Linked DNA regions of Homo sapiens: all the other regions are linked to region 1. The links come from fine-mapping of genetic effects on gene expression. A gene starts in region 1. Each other region holds a variant in brackets. All regions are shown on one strand. Distances are from middle to middle.

What was found. PIP is the estimated chance that this variant, and not a neighbour inherited with it, causes the effect.
Region 2: its variant is the best candidate, but not a certain one, in a credible set for the expression of MXRA7 in atrial appendage (GTEx, PIP 0.50).
Region 3: its variant is the best candidate, but not a certain one, in a credible set for the expression of MXRA7 in prefrontal cortex (BrainSeq, PIP 0.78).
Region 4: its variant is the best candidate, but not a certain one, in a credible set for the expression of MXRA7 in whole blood (TOPMed, PIP 0.86).

Annotation. Positions count from the first base shown.
Region 1 is chr17:76,708,804-76,713,061 of GRCh38, forward strand. It overlaps MXRA7 (matrix remodeling associated 7), which reads right to left and starts at 2,162. Exons shown (of 4, transcript NM_198530.4): 1 at 1,802-2,162. The coding sequence starts at 2,143. It also overlaps a transcript of JMJD6 not described here. RefSeq lists a silencer at 2,184-2,393.
Region 2 is chr17:76,688,027-76,692,284 of GRCh38, forward strand. MXRA7 (matrix remodeling associated 7) reads right to left here. Exons shown (of 4, transcript NM_198530.4): 2 at 87-150. Among named protein-coding and RNA genes, the nearest start is that of MXRA7, 21 kb to the right of the region's middle. The variant A/G (reference allele first, on the strand shown) is at 2,701.
Region 3 is chr17:76,677,650-76,681,907 of GRCh38, forward strand. It overlaps MXRA7 (matrix remodeling associated 7), which reads right to left. Exons shown (of 4, transcript NM_198530.4): 4 at 1,917-3,230. The coding sequence ends at 3,218. Among named protein-coding and RNA genes, the nearest start is that of MXRA7, 31 kb to the right of the region's middle. The variant C/G (reference allele first, on the strand shown) is at 2,403.
Region 4 is chr17:76,761,043-76,765,212 of GRCh38, forward strand. The region is part of intron 8 of MFSD11 (major facilitator superfamily domain containing 11); the gene reads left to right. Among named protein-coding and RNA genes, the nearest start is that of MFSD11, 25 kb to the left of the region's middle. The variant C/T (reference allele first, on the strand shown) is at 1,592.

The DNA of each region.
Region 1 (4,258 bases):
ACTTCAATTGAATTCTCCTGTGGGGTGGGTTCTCTCTGGAGGGTGCCTTAGCGGGAGGACAGACACAAGCCTCAAGTCATCCTCACTGGCACCTATGTCATGGGGGCTGCCTGGCACGCGAACCCCCATACTGCCTTGTCCTTCAGAGCACCCATTCAGCTTCAGAGGACGTGCATTCACCCAGACAGTGGCAAATTATGCGAGTGGCCCTATTTAAACACCACTGAACCTATTCCTGTAGGTACCATGTGCTGAGAGCCGAAAGCCTTGTAGAAAGTTCTTTAAGCGCTGTGCCCCACAGGATTGAGCTAAGACAGGGCGCCGCTAAAGGACATTTTGCACTTCAGTCCAGAGCCTGGTGTGGGTGATAAAGGGCCAGCCCTGTAAGGCCAGGACTGACTGAGTGTGCATGACGGCTCCAGAACTGTCTAAAGGCCTCTCCTGCTCCCGCGAGACCTCGATGGAGGCAGGAATCCCAAATATGGGAGCAAACACAACAGATCAGCACATGTCCAAACCGCGCCCCCTCCACCATCACCGCGTGAGGTCTGGAAGCCCACCCCAAGCAAGAACGGCAGGGCCTGCCCCTGCTCCACCCCATTAAATGTGGCTGGTTAGAATCCTCTCTAATGACACAATTAGTCACCCACTTGTCAAGCAAAGCGCCTGCTCAGAGGGGGTCTGGCGCACTTACTCAGCAAAGAGAAATGCCTCTGAGCACAGCCTGGCTGCCTCCTCCTCCCCCGAAGGGCTTCTCTCCAGGGTAAACCATTGTGTCCAGCACAGGACAGAGTGGGCACGCAGACACGCAGGCACGCTGACAATGCGCATCCCGGCTCTCCTCCCTTCCAAGAAAAGGAGCTCAGGGGTAAGAACAAGGGATTACAATCCGACTCGGAGACCCTGGCGGTGGCCTGGACCGGCCAAGCGTGGTGAACTCCAGGGAACATGGGCACACAGTGTAGGGGCTGGGATGAGTGGATGAGGGAAATCCGACTCCTCTCAGATATCCACAGGCAGGACAAGGTGGCCAAGGCCGAGCTGATGGACAGCATGGCGGGAGGCCTGGGGCAGAGGCAGGGAGGGCCGCTTTGGGGTGCTCACTGGTGCTCCAGGAGGGCTTTATCCTGCATCTTCACTCCATCCAGGCCCAGCTTACCTACAACCCGGGGGAGTGGGGGTAGGAGGGTGTTAGATGTGTAGCTTGAAAACGACAATAAAAAGGACTGCTGGGATCGGGTGCCTTTTCTTTCAGTCCCAGCCCACGGGCTTCACAAAACGCCACAGCACTGACTCTGAAATCTGGACTTCAAATTGGCTGAAAAAGAAAAGCCAGCTTTCCTCCCTCGCCCCCCGAAAGTCCTACTTTTTAAACATCAAGATAACTCTCATGGCAGGCCTGGAAATAAGCCACAGGCACGTGGATTTGGGAACCGGTGGGCGGGAGGGGTCAGAAGTGGGTGAGGAGCAAAATTCCAAGCCCTGGTCCCGAGGCCTGGGAGCCAGCAGCTGCGGAGCACGCCCTGGGCTGGGAGAGGCCGAGGGGAGGGGAGAGCAAAACACCTCCAAACAAACTCCTTCGGGCTCGCCCCTCGCCACACTTTCTGGGGGAGGGCGGCGAGTTTGCGGGGCTGCGGCTTAGCATGGCGGGACCTGCATTTCCTGCGGGCCGCGGGTTCTGCGCTTCCTGGGGGCAGCCTGGGCTGGAGGCCGCGGCCCCGCTCCCTGGCTCGGCGGGGAACGGCAGCGGCAGCCGGAGCCCCGGGGGTGGGGAGGGGGCCGCGAGGGCCCCGGTGCGTACCTGCCTCGCCTCCACCGCCTGCTCCTCCGCCTCCGCTGGCGCCGCCGCGGGATCCCCTGGCCCTTCGGGCTCCCCCGGTCCCGCAGGCTCCCCGAGCTCCCCCAGCCCCGCGGGCTCTCCAGGCTCCTCCGGCCCCGCGGGCGAGGCCGCCGGCTCGGGGGCGCAGGGGCGGGACGGCGCCGGGGCCCCGGTGGCCTCGGCCGGGGGCGCGGGTTCCGGGGGCGCGCGGGCAGGCTCCGGGCTCGCGGCCGCCCCACGCCGCACCAGTAGCCAGGCGAGCAGAAGGGCCAGCGCGGTGGCCAGCGCAGGCAGCGCGGCCAGTAGCTCGGCCGGCGCCTCCATCGCGCCGCGGCCGCCGAGTGCGGGCCAGCTGGGACCCCGAGGGAGCCCGCCGCGCCCCGTCGCCGCGCCCGGTCGCCGCGCCCCGCCTCGGGGCGGAGCCCCCATCGCCGCGCCCCGCCCCCGCCCCCTCCGGCCCCGGGAGGGTGACGCACAGGCTGCGGGCGGGGGTGTTGAGGGGGCAGAGCCCTGACCACCTGGGAGGCACAGGAGGGCCAACCCCTGCCCGGCCTGGGCAGCCTTGACGCTTTGGGGCACAATTTAGCTCAGGTTCAATTTGAAATACTGTATGAGGTGCCCTTAGGTTGTCATCTTTGGCCTTAGTACGGCGGTTCGTCTTAGAGCATTTTGGAAATGTGGGAATGCAGAGAGACAAGCAAACCCGGGAAGCTTCATGGAAACGGCAGCCTGGATTGGCTTGTAAAGCAATCATAATGCCGGATTACGTTCAGCCACTGCCGTTTTTATAGGCATGTCAGGAGTTGCTTTTAATCCTCAGGGTTGCCTTAATGCACTTTCACAGAGGACATCTCCAGATCCCGGCCAGTGAATGCTCCCTTCGGAGCTGAGGCCAGCAGCCTTCAACACAGGCCTCCCTGTTAACAGTAACATGGCTCCCCCGCCCCTAGACCTGAAATTCAGCTGCAGGTCCTTGGTCAACGCTATTCCTCTTACCAGACTTTCTTCTTTGCACAATTCCAGAATGCATGCAGGGTGGGAGGGTACAATGAAGGAAATGAAGGCTATTGTTTTTGTTTCTCCAGATCCTCCCAGGCCTCTGTTGCTGAACAGTGGATTTTGAGATAAACACGTTGTAACCAAAAACATACTTTCCTACCACTCCCCACCCACTCTTTAGTTATTTTAAATAAACACAGGACGGGCATGTCAGGTATCACGCCAAACATAAGGCCTAATGTTAAAAAAAACACGGTTCCAGTTTTTGCTGAGGATGCCTTTAATACTTTTTTGGGAATATTACAGTGCCTGAGCTGATCTGTGATATAAACCAGATATTAGATGGAGTGCTTCTTTTTAAATGAAGATACACAAACGAGACCCCTCAGCAACAGGGAGAGCTGAATTCTGCTGCACTGCACGATATTAAGCGGGCCATGCACTTCCTTTTAGTGGTGGTTGATGAAAAGAGCCTATAAACTATAAAATGTGAAATAGGCTTTATCTACGGGCGACTAGCTTTTAACCACTGTGGAAGTTTCAGCCAGTGTATGGGCCTATTTTTTTTCTTTTGAGATGGAGTCTTATTCTGTTGCCCAGGCTGGAGTGCAGTGGCGCAATCGCGGCTCACTGCAACCTCCACCTCCCGGGTTCAAGCGAAACTCCCACCTCAGCCTCCTGAGTAGCTGGGATTACAGGCGCCCACCACCATGCCCGGCTAATTTTTTTCTGTTTTTAGTAGACAGGGTTTCACCGTGTTGGCCAGACTGGTCTTGAACTCCTGACCTCAGGCAATCTGCCTGCCTCAGCCTCCCAAAGTGTTGGGATTACAGGCGTGAGCCTCCGCGCCCAGCCAATTTTTTTTTTTTTTTTTTAAAGAGACAGGGTCTTTCTTTCTTTTTTTTTTTTTAAAGAGACAGGGTCTCACTATGTTGCCCAGGCTGGAGTGCAGTGGCTATTCACAGGCATGATCATAGCTTTCTGCAGCCTCGACATCCTGGGCTCAAGTGATCCTCCTGCCTTAGCCTCTTGGGCAGCTGGGATTACAGGTGTGCATCAATGCTCCTGGCCCAGGGCCTTAATTTTGTGCTCCATCCCATTGTTTTAAAGTGTAAATACATTTTTTTAAAGTCCTGTTCTGCTGACAAAGTACATTGTTGACTTTCAAATGAGTAAGAAAGAAAATAAGGACAAAACAATGCCAAAAACACAACTCCAAATCATGTTGCTTTATTTAAAATGATGAACAAGTTTCACCCAAGTGAAAGTTTAAAATACCAACCCAATAGCAGATCCACAGGCTTTCATGGCAGACCCCATGGCTAGACGGACGCAGAACTAGGAGACTGCTCAGTGTTCTGACAACTCCAGGAGGCACGAGTGTGCAGAAGACAGTCCCAGTTCTTCTGTAGCATCCAGTCACTTTGGAGACAGCTGGCC
Region 2 (4,258 bases), 21 kb before region 1:
GAACCCCAGCTCCTGTGATCCCCAGCAGGACACAGACCACCCCCGACACTGTCAGGCCCCCTCATGAGCGCAGAGGTCCCACTCACCGTCCTCCTCCTCAGGCCCTTCCGATGATGGCCCCTTCTCACCATCCAAGTCCTGCTCCTCTTCCTGCAAGACAAGGACAGGGTCAGTGCCCTTGGCACAGACTGGGTGATGGGAAGTGGTGGGGGGGCAGAAGGTAGGGGAGACAGAGGAGGCCCTCGAAGGTCCAGCCTGCCCACGCCCTGTGGCAGCGCCTGCCCTGTGGTCATGGTCAACCAGCAGGTGGGGGCTGTGTACAAACGATGGGCCAAAGTGACTCGGCTCACAAATGCTGAGCTGAGGCGTGTTCTTGACTGTGCACCCCAAGCCCTCGGCCTTGGCCTTTCCCAGGTGGGTGCCTGTTGAGGCTTCTGTGTGCCATTTGGAGAAGTGGGCCCAGGACTCCCACTGCGACGCTGCGGCCAGCAGACAAAGGGTGCAAGAGGAAAGCTGGCTGGGGTGTCTGTCTGGGACCAGGGCCAGGCAGCATGGCCATCGCAGCCTCTGGCTTTGCTTCCTTCTATGTTGTTTTCCATCCCCAACTCTCTCAGTGTCCATGTTCCCAAAACTGGAGCCCCACCTCTTCAGCCAGTTCTCTCCCACACAGAGACACAATAAACAGATGATCAGAGGAATGGCCCGGGATGGCCTTGGTGGAAGGAAGAAGTGACTTCAGCTTGCAGGAATGTCAGAGGATGAGAGCGACGTGCCGTGCCCATGGGCTCTGTGGGATTGAAGGTCATGGGGAGGGGACATGGGAGCCCCAGGAACTTCAACTTGGAAGCCCAGTGGGTAGATGTGGAAATGAATGAATGAGCAGCCCCAGCTGATCCCATGGAGCCCAGCCAGCGTCGGCCGCTCACGGGAGGCTCCCTAACAAAACACTGAGCTGTGCCGGGAGGCAAAGTTTTTACAAGCCCCACAGCGGGTCGGAAGTGGCAAACCCAGAGGGGCCTTGAGCTCCTCTGAGTGACTTTTTGTTTGTTTGGTTTCTGTTTTTTTCTGAGTGTGTTTCTGAGACAGAGTTTTGGCTCTTGTTGCCCAGGCTGGCGTGCAGTGGCGCGATCTCGGCTCACTGCAACGTCTGCCTCCTGGGTTTAAGCGATTCTCCTGCCTCAGCCTCCCGAGTAGCTGGGATTACGGGCGCCCGCCACCCAAGCCCAGCTAATTTTTTTGTGTTTTCAGTAGAGATGGCATGTCACCATGTTGGCCGGGCTGGTCTCGAACCCCTGACCTCAGGTGATCCGCCTGCCTCGGCCTCCCAGAGTGTTGGGATTACAGGAGTGAGCCACTGTGCCTGGCCTGAGGGACTTCCTTGACTACACAAAATGCTGCCTGGGGGGAGCTGCGCAGGCAACACAGCGTCTTCCCTGTTGGGCACTTTGTACACACAGACTTAGTGCTATCTATGGCGAAGTGGTGCCTGTGTGTCCTGACGTTTCCCAAATTTTGCACAGCAAAGTATCTCTATGGCTGAGGTCGGAGTGGGCAGGCCTCTTCCGGGGGCAGGAAGAGGAGCCGCTCCATTTGACACAGCAAACCCACTTCTAGGGATCTGCTCCAGACTGGAGAAATGTCCATCAGGATTTTTATATAATGACTCTGACCGCGTGCAGTTGAAAAGACAGAACTGGGGACCGGGTGCGGTCGCTCACGCCTGTAATCCCAGAATTTTGGGAGGCCTAGGTGGGTGGATCAGCTGAGGTTGGGAATTCGAGACCAGCCTGGCCAACATGGCAAAACCCCGTCTCTACTAAAAATACAAAAAAAAATTAGCCGAGTGTTGTGGCAGGTGCCTTTAATCCCAGCTACTCAGGAGGTTGAGGCAGGAGAATCGCTTGAACCCGGGAGGTGGAGGTTGCAGTAAGCCAAGATTGCGCCATTGCACTCCAGCCTAGTGACACAGCAAGACTGCATCTTAAAAAAAGAAAAAAAAAAAAAAAGGAGGCGTTGATAGGTGCTGACATGAAAAGTACATCAAGATAAATCGAGGGAAAAATGCAAGCAGCAGCCCCACGTGAGCAGCGCAGTCATCTTGCTGTAAATGGCAAAGTGGAAATGCACGCATGTGCTCGAAAATGCAGAGAAAAGGTTTGTTTTTTGGAAGGGCCCACGAGAAACTGTCAGCAGTGGCTACCTCTTGGGAAAGGAGCTTGGGGGGCAGCTTTTCCTTTCCGTCTTATAGAGTTCAGTATAATTTGGACTTTCCATTAATATGCATGAATGACTAAATATATTTTTTAAATGCTAATGGTGTCTTTGGACAGTCAGATCCAAAGACCCCATTTTTTCTTTATTTATTTTCTTATATATTCTAAAAAAGAAAAAAAAAGTAAGAGGCCAGGTGTGGTGGCTCATGCCTGCAATCTCAGCACTTTGGGAGGCTGAGGTGGGAGGGCTGCTTGAGCCCAGAAGTTCAAGACCAGCCTGGCAACATAGTGCACACCTCGCCTCTACTGAAAATTTAAAAATTAGCTGTGCATGGTGGCACGCACCTGTGATCCCACCTACTTAGAAGGCTGAGGCAGAAGGATCACTTGGAAAAAAAAAAGTAGAAAGAATGTAACATCCTAAATATATATATATTTGGTTTCGGCCCCCAGTTCTTGACACAGTTTTTATTTTGTTTGTTTTTTG[A/G]GACAGGATCTTGCTCTGTTGCCCAGACTGGAGTGCAGTGGTGCAATCACGGCTCACTGCAGTCTTGACCTCCAGGGCTCAAGCGATCCTCCTGCCTCAGCCTCTGGAATAGCTGGGATCACAGGTGCATGCCACCATGCCCAGCCCTGACACTGAGCTCCTAAGTCCCTTGAATTTCCTAAGTTACAGGGGTGCTAGCAGCATGTTTTGTTCTAACATTTGGTTTTGATCCCAGTCCCTGGCACAGAGCTCCTAAGTCCGTTGGAATTTCCCGGGTGACAGGAGTGTCTTTTGTTCTAATGAGGTAACTCCTGGGTGGGCTGATCACCAGAGAGATCAAGCTGCAATGAGGAGCTTGGAACTTTCAGCCCCACCACCCCCCAGCTTCCTCCAGAGACTGGAGAGGAGCTGGAGATTGAGTTAAGAATCGATGACGCCTATGTGATGAGGCCTCCGTCAACATCCCGATAGGGTTTGGAGAGCTTCCAGGCTGCTGAATGCATTCCCGTGCGCAGGGGGTAGCGTACCCCAACTCCATGGGGACGGAAGCTCCTGCATTCAGGACCCTACTGGACCTTACTCTACTTAGGTACCTCCATCTGGCTGTTCATCTGTAGCCTTTATCACTTCCTTTCTAATAAACCAGTTAACATAAGTGCTTCCCTGAGCTCCGTAAGACGCTGTAGCAAATTACTCAACTTGAGGAGGGGTTCATGGAACCCTTGATTTGTAGGCAAGTAGGACCAAAGTGTGGGGAACGAGGGGACCTGATACTTGTGATTGGCCCCTGAAGTAGGGGGCAGTCTGTGGGACTGGGCCCTAACCTGTGGGGTCTGCACTGATTCCAGGCAGTTAATGTCAGAGTTGAACGGGAGGACACCCACTTGGTGTCTGGGTGGCTGGAGAAGGTGTTGGTTGCAGGGGTGGGGCTGGCTGCATATTTGGTATCAGAAGTGAAGGGTTCTGTGGAGTGTTGTGTGCATGGACAGAAAAACAGTTGGTTTTTCTCATGGTTGATGTCTCTCTTTAATGACAGGCAAACAGTCACTGACCTATTCAGGGCACGGCCCCGGAACTAAGCCCAATATCAAGAATAGACAGGAGGCCAGTTCTCCTATTATGTGCAAAGGACACAAAGATTAAATGAAAAACAACAGCAACAATGAGCACAGTCCCTGCCTTACGGAGCTCGTGGTCCAGTAGGAAAGACAAACAAATAATTGCACTCCAGGGCGAGGAGTCCATGAGCCAGGGCAGATCCGTATCCCCAAAGGACCCAGTATCAGCTGACGTGCCCAAGCCCTCCTGAGCACAGAGAGGCTGGTACACATTTAGATTCTGGGCCAGGCACAGTGGCTCACACCTGTAATCACAGCACATTGGGAGGCCGAGGCAGGTGCGTCGCTTGAGCCCAAGAGGTTGAGGCTGTAGTAAGCCATGGGGGTGCCACTGCATTCCAGCCTGGGCAAGAGTAAGACCCTGTCACCAAAAGAAAAAAAAAATTGTACTTGACTTTGGAAGTCTGATTTTTTCTTTTTTTTTTTTTGAGACAGTTTCA
Region 3 (4,258 bases), 31 kb before region 1:
CCTTGTTGTCTTTCATGAGCTTGAAGATGGCAGCCAGCTGTTCCTTCTGAACTCTGTCGAGAAGAAAGGACAAAGAGGAAGAAGGTGCTCCTAGCCCACTGGGGAGAGAGGGAGCCTGTGTGCAGCCGGCGGAGTTGGGACTCTCCTCTCTCTTGTGTGACTGCGGTTGCTTTTCAGAACAAGAAGAAAATGAAAATAAAACCCACTTAGAACATCGGAGCTGGTTGGGTCTGACACACGCAACTTTTGAGGGCTCTAAAAACTGGGATGCGAAATCTCAGGTTTGCCGGGGAGGTTTGGGGACCCCAGGTATCACTTAGGTGCTCTGTGCCTCAGTTTCCCTTTGGGCCTCATTTGATTGTTGACTGCATGTCCCACAGTGATGTAATGAGGAAGAAGATAGGCTCCATGAAGCAGCTTGAGGTAGTGCTATGAAGAAGTAGGTTAGAAACAGCCTTCGTTGAGAGGAATGAGCCGAAAGTGGAGAAAGAAAAAACATTATCAGCTGGGAAATCAGGGAGCATACAAGTGTGTGCAAGACGGTGCTTGGCAAAGGAGCGGGGAGGGAAGCCTGTGGGGTTTCACTGGCCAGAGAAAGGGGGGTGCCTTTTCCTAATTTGCACAAGATACCCTATGGCAGGTGGCGGCCCTGCCCCTTTTATCAAGGGATGGGTGTGGAGGAAGACTGGCCTAAATGTTTGCTCCACGCGGGTTCTGTGCTGGGAGCAATGTCTTGTTATCTTTATGAGGCTCAGCTACACCATCTGACCAGCACAGGACAACTTCTGCAGCACAAACACCTCAGGTGGGGCGAGGCGGCTGCCGAACCCAGGGAGCCATATGTTTGTTGTTTGCTCCACTCTGGTGCCCTGTGCTCCTCAGCCCAGCCGGGCACTGCATCCTGGCTGCATCTCACTCTTCTGGTTTCTGCAGTTCCTGCCCCCCACACACCACGGGCTCAGTGCCTTCAGAGAACGTAAACCACATCACAGTGTCGGACCTCTCAGCCCTGCTCTGCAGCTGGGTCGGCTGTAAGCACGTTACAGGCTCTGCAACCGCAGGACCTCAGCATAGCCCTGGGCCACTGGCATCCCCCACACTGCCTGGAGGGGTGGTCTCCACGTTCGCTCCCATACTTTTGCTACCATATTCCTTTGCTTCACCCTTCCCTCCTCTCCTCAGCCCCGCATCTTCCATCCTGCAAAATTTTCTGTCTAGAGCAGCATCTAGTAGTTGAAATACTGAAGTCCCACTTCCCAGCCTCCCTTGTCCCCTGGGAAAGCTGTGTCTACAGTCGGTTCCCCTGTCTGGTGAAGCAGCAGCCTATGATGTGTGCTTTGTGCCCTCCTGTAAGAAGAAAGAGGGTCAGGTGCAGTGGCTCATGCCTGTAATCCTAGAACTTTAGGAGGCCAAGATGGGAAGATCACTTGAGCCCAGGAGTTCAAGACCAGCCTGAGCAACATAGTCAGACTCTGTCTCTATAAAACAATTAGCCAGGTGTGGTGGTGAGCACCTGTAGTCCCAGCTACCTGGGAGGCTGAGACGGGAGGATCACTTAAGCCCACGAGGTCCAGGCCACAGTGAGCTGTGATTGCACCACTGCACTCCAGCTTGGGCAACAGAGGGAGGCCCTGTCTCAAAAAAAAAAAAAAAAAGAAGAAGAAGAGGAATTCCCGTGAACAGAAAGGATGTGCTGAGCTCTGTGGATGGAAGCACAATCCATATGTCCCTGAGTGAACACAGATCATGTCATGTGGTTTTGACAGCCATGGTGACTGCATATTTTTTAACAGGGTGGATGTATGGCTTTGTACTCTGCTGCAGAGTAAGAGGCATCAAAATGAAAGAAAGGTCAAACTTCAATGGGTTCAAAAGGGATTTTGTTTTAAAACAAAGCAAACTGAAAAAACACACAGTAATTGAGATCATCTACTCAAAGTTTATTGGACTGAACAAAGGCTGAATACAGAGATCCAAGCCATGAGGAGTACATGAGGTGTGGTGCCTATAAGCCAGGGTCGGAAACTTTCCAGACAAACCTAGATAGCTCTACTAGGAGGGAGTCAACGACCTATTGTGTCAATTAGATCCCAGCCTGGACAAGGGCATGACTATTGCTGTTTGGGGACACGTGGCTCTGTGTTGAAGGCAATGACTGTGTGGCTGTTGCCATGTGGCCTGTTCTCCCCTAAGCCCTGAACCAAAGGTTCCAGGCCCAGATGAGAAGGCCCCTGGGAATGCATGCCATAGGGGTTGATGCTGGACATTCCCCAGCCTTCCATTAAATGAAAACATTTTCTATAAACTTACTGCTTTAAAAAAATGTTTTAACCAACAAACCTAAGAACTGCAAATGAGTTTGGTATAGTATAAATATTGTCAAATATAAAATTCCAAGAAAC[C/G]CATTTGAGACTGATCTGATGATCTGAAGTTCTAACTAATCTATCAAACTTTCTAAGAAAAGGCATAGGTCAAGAAATCTTTTTAAAGCAAACATTATTGCTTCTGCTATAGCAGAGTGGAGATTTGGCTGAGCTGGTAAGAACCTCAGTGAAAAGGTGTCTTAGCAATGAAAGGGCTGAATCCGAGATTCCTCTAGATGAAAAATAAGGGGAATGGTCAAGTAAATTCCTGGTACTGGTTCTTTGCTGCCCTGTAATCAATATGGCATCTCACCCCCGACAACCAAGCCAGCCACAGAGAGAAGTGGGGTTCCCAGGGAAAGGGGTCGGCTGACCACCCTGACGGAGCTGGTGAGCACAGGTGAGCTCTACCTCATTTGTCTCTCATTCCTCAAAGTCTTCTGTGGTTTGGCTTCAGTGAGGGCAAAAGAGGGGAGACTGGAGTGAAAGTGAACTCTGCTTTTAAAATGTTCTTTTTATCTAAGGTGTGCAGGGTGTGTGGATAGCAAGTTTGAGTGGTAAGAAAAATCCCAGTCCAGGGTCTGAGCTCTACCTCTTAAAACTCTTCAGCTTAACAAAGTGACCCACAGGAACAGACATGAACATCTCTACACAGGGCAGGGCCAAAGGTGTTCCCAGGATCCTGCTAGCCAAGGGACAAGTCCTGATTGAGGGTCTAGAGCTCAGCAGATTTATGGAGGCAGCATGCACCCTGGGAGCCTGCCCAGACTCCTCTCTGGGGTTTCCGTTTTATCTCTCAAGCTTTTAAGATGCCAAAAGGAAAAGCCTTTAGGAGGACGCTAAGGATAACTTCGTTATTCTTCAGTTCTGTAAAGAGAAATGGGGAGAAAAAGATAATTTATTTTACTCATTCCATCCTGCACCATGGGCAAGGAAAGGGGGAAATGGGGACGAGGAAGGAGAATGTTTGGAATTGCAGAAGCTGCGCTAGACTCTGGTTTCTCAAACCACTGCTGATTTGCTTCTCATCGCTTGCAGCAAGACAGTCTGTGCCGCCAAGCCGGCCAGAGCTTGCAGAGCTCCCCTTGATCCCGCACAGAACCTGGCAGCCCACAGACCCTGTTCAGCCTCTGCAGGGTACTTAAGGAAGGAACTTGGGCATTTGAGTTGCCAAGGGCCTTTCTGATCTTGGGTTGTGTGGTTGTGCTGACAATATTCCTATCACCCTAGATAATTTCCCATTCCCGCTGGCTGAGTTTTGTCCCCTCGGGGGATACTGGCACCCTAGGATGCACGCTTCCAGATGGAGCCAACTGCATGCCCGTCTTTTATGAACCAAGACACACTGCCAGCCCTGGGACCACTGAGAACCCAGCAGGTCTGATCTTGTCCCTCTGACGCCCTCTCCTGGTGGTCACAGTCAGCACGCATTTCCAGCCTGAGCTGGAAATTCACACTGGCAGGTCTATTGTCTGTAGTTTCTTGCATACATCAGATGGAAGAACCAGAACTACCCCACAGCTGGGGTTCCTTGGCCTCCTCCTCCCCTTCCCTGTTTTACCACACTAGCACCTTCCTCTAGAGTCATGTCCATTTCCAGAGGAGTCAAGACAGCCCTGCAGACCTCAAATGGAGGGGTGGGTCCTGATCTATCAGAGCCAGCCCAGTCTATAGCCTGGGTTCATTTTCCCTCTGAGACCACAAGGTGGGAAGAAGTGATGGAGAGGAGCTGACAGCCGCGCCTGTTCTTTCTCCTGCCAAGCTGTGAAGCCAGCCAAGCCCTGCCAGCTTCCCTAGCTCTGGGGGAGGAGGAGGAGGCCTCTTGCTCAGGGGAGCTGTCACCAGCCTGCAAGCCCACTGTCCTAGCCACACTGTGAAACTGGAGGTGGCACTTC
Region 4 (4,170 bases), 52 kb after region 1:
AAAATAACAAAAATTAGCCGCACACGGTGGTGAGTGCCTGTAATCCCAACTACTCAGGAGGCTGAGGCGGGAGAATTGCTTGAACCTGGGAGACAGAGATTGCAGTGAGCCGAGATCGTGCTGTTGTGCTGCAGCCTGGGTGACAAGAGCAAGACTCCATCTTGGGGAAGACTACATTGCTGATATATACTTGTAGTACTTTATAAAAAGTGATTTGTCATTAGGTATCAAAAGGGATAAAAATGTTTATAACCTTTGCCCCAGTGGAATAACCAATTTCACTAGTAAGATTATCCTCAGGAAATAATTAAATATTGTGGCAAGATCTAGCTACTAAGATGTTTATAGTAGTGAGATACTGGAAATAAGTATTCAACTGTTAGACATTAGTACATCTATATAATAGATTACCCTAGCCATAAAAATTATCTCTGTGAATGTTCAAAAAATTCTCCTGTATATTACGTGAAAACAAATGATAAAATGGAGAATATATAGTAGAATTTGTTTTTGTAAAAAATACATAGAAAAAGACTGGAAGAAGATTCATTAAGGTGTTAGATTCTGCCTTTTTAAATTGAGATATAATTCATATACTGGCCGGGCGCAGTGGCTCACGCCTGTAATCCCAGCACTTTGGGAGGCCGAGGCGGGCGGATCATGAGGTCAGGAGATCAACACCATCCTGGCTTACATGGTGAAACCCCATCTCTACTAAAAATACAAAAATTAGCCAGGCGTGGTGGCGGGTGCCTGTAATCCCAGCTACTTGGGAGGCTGAGGCAGGAGAATGGCGTGAACCCAGGAGGCGGAGCTTGCAGTGAGCCGAGATCACGCCACTGCACTCCAGCCTGGGCGACAGAGCTAGACTCCGTCTCAAAAAAAAAAAAAAAATTCATATACCATATGATTCACCCATTTAATCAATCTAAAGAATCCATTGCAAAGTCAGTACAATTTATTATATTCAGAGTCGTGTAACCATCACTTTACTCAATTTTAGAGCATTTTCCCTGTGCACATTAGAGTCACTTCTCATTCCAGCCTCCTAATGCAACCTCCCTAAGGCACTCCCAACTTTCTCCCCTTTCACTACTATTGCACCCATTCCTCTACTTTGTCTATAGATATGCTTATTCTGGACATTTTATGTAAATAGAATCATACAACATGTGGTCTTTAGTGCCTGGTTTCTTTTAACATAATGGTTTCAAGGCTCATTCATGTCACAATATATTATAAAATTTGAGTCATTCCTATATTTTATGTATTATGAGTTTCAGGGGTCTGTCCTGCAGACCCTGACCCAACAATGGATGAATAAAGTACACTGACACACAGATATTCTGCTTTGCCAGTTTGGCTGAGCATCCGGGCAGCTTATAGACTCCACGCAGAGTGCTGTAAACAGTTGGAGATGGAGACCATCCTGGCTAACACGGTGAAACCCCGTCTCTACTAAAAATACAAAAAAATTAGCCAGGCGTAGTGGCGGGCACCTGTAGTCCCAGGCTGAGGCAGGAGAATGGTGTGAACCGAGGAGGTGGAGCTTGCAGTGAGCCGAGATCGCGCCACTGCACTCCAGCCTGGG[C/T]GACTGAGCGAGACTCCGTCTCCAAAAAAAAAAAAAAAAAAAAGCGGCCTTGACCAGCTAGTGAGACTCACATTTATTCAGTAAATATTAATTGACAAAGGCTTGAGTCAACACCACTAGAGGGTAATTGACATCGTGGACTTCCCGAGTAGAAAGCAATTAAGCACCGGCGGGAAATCAAAGGTTAGCCTTAGGACCACAAGAGTAAACAAGCTATTTAGATAAACTCCCCACATTCCTTTTTTTTTTTTTTAAACTCCCCACATTCCTTTGTTTCTACTGTAATTTATTTAACTAAGGGGACAAGGCTGCCTTCAGCTAAGTTTATCACTGGAGCTTATGCAAACGCCCCAGGCCTTCCAAGAAGGTTTGCGTCTTATAATTTTCCCCACCATCCTGACTGAACTCCCCCAATGGTAATACATAAAGTTCGTGTACAAGTTTTTGTGTGGATGTGTTTTCAGATCTCTTTGATGCACACCTAGGAATGGTGGAATTGCTGGGTCATGTGGTATCTGACTGCTTAGCCTGTGGGGGAACTGCCAGATTGTTATACCACTTTACATTTCTACTAGCAGAGGATGAGTTTGTCAGTGTTTCCACGTGCTTGCAGTTATTTTCTGTTTTTTTGTTTTTTGTTTTTTTTTTTGAGGTGGAGTATTGCTCTGCCACCCAGGCTGGAGTGCAGTAGCACAATCTCGACTCACTGCAACCTCCACCTCCCAGGTTCAAGTGATTCTCCTGTCTCAGCCTCCCTAGTAGCGGGATTACAGGTGCATGCTACCCCTCCCGGCTAACTGTTATATTTTTTGTAGAGATGGGATTTCACCATGTTGGCCTGGCTGATCTTGAATTCCTGATCTCAAGTGATCCACCCGCCTCAGCCTCCCAAAGTGCTGGGATTACAGGCGTGAGCCACCGTGCCCGGCCCTAGTTAGATCCTTTGCCCATTTTTAAATTGGATTCTGTTTTTATTAATGAGTTGTAAGAGTTCTTTATATATTCTAGATAAAAGTTCTATATATATGATTTACAAATATTTTCTCCCATTTTGTTTCAGCAAACGCTCTAGGAAAACAAACAAATGTTTTCTCCCGTTCTATAGATTGACTTTTCATTTTCTTGATAGTATCTTTTGAAGCACAAAACTTAAAAAAAAAAAATTCCCCCAACTTTATCGAGGTATAACTTACAAAAATTGTATATATTTATGAGGTACAACATGTTTTTGTTTTTGTTTTTTTTTTGAGGCAGAATCTTGCTCTGTCACCCAGGCTGGAGTACAGTGGCATGATCTCAGCTCACTGCAGCCTCCTCCTCCTGGGTTCAGGCAATTCTGGTGCCTCAGCCTCCCGAGTAGCTGGGATTACAGGGGTATACCACCATGCCCAGCTAATTTTTTTGTATTTTTAATAGAGATGGGGTTTTACCATGTTGGCCCAGCTAATCTTGAACTCTGGGCCTCAAGCAATTCGCCTGCCTCCCGAAGTGCTGGGATTACAGGCGTGGGCCCTAGCACTCGGCCACGTGTTTTGATATATGTATACATTGTGAAATGATGGTCACACTCAAGCTAGTTAACATATCCATCACCTCACATAGTTATCTTTTTTTTGCATGTGTAATGAGAACATTTAAGATCTACTTTCCAACCAAATTTCAAGTATACAATAGAGTGTTATTAACTGTCAACACCAAGTTGTACATTAGATCCTCAGCACTCACTCATCCTGCCTAACGAAAACTTTGTACTCTTTAACCAACGTCTCCCTATTTCCCCCACCCTCCAGCCCCGGCAACCACTATGCTACTCTCTGCTTCTATGAGTTTGACTTTTTAATATTCCCCATATAAGTAAGATCATGCAGTATTTGTCTTTCTGTGTCTGGCTTATTTCACTTAGCGTAATGCTCTTCAGGTTCATCCACGTTGCCCTAAATGGCAGGATTTCCTTTTGTAAGGCTGAATAATATACCATTGTATATACCACATTTTCTTTATTCATCCGTTTAAGGACACTTAGTTGTTTCCATGTCTTTGCTATATAATTAATACACACACACACACACACATATACATATAATAGTGCTGTAATGAACATGGGAGTGCAGCTATCACTTTGAGATACTGCTTTCATTTCCTTTGGATATATGCCCAGAGGTAGAATTGCTGGATCATAACATGTTTTTAGTATTTTGAGGACCTTCCATATTGTTTTCCATGTTCGCTGTACCAATTTACATCCTCACCAATAGCGTACAAGGGTTGTCTTTCCTCCACATCCTCACCAACACTTGTTACCTTTTGTCTTTTTGATAATAGCCATCCCAACAGGTGTGAGGGGATGTCTTACTGTGGCTTTGATAAAGTTTTTAATTTTGATGTAGTCAATTTGTTTAGTTTTTCTTCTGTTGTGTGTGCTTTTGATGTCCTAAGATTTTGCTTCACCCCAGGTCCTGAAAATTTACTCCTATATTTTCTTTTAAAAGTTTTTTTAGTTTTAGCTCTTACATTTAGGTCTGTGATTCATTTTCAGTTAATTTTTACATATGGTTTGAGATGGAAATCCAGCTTTATTC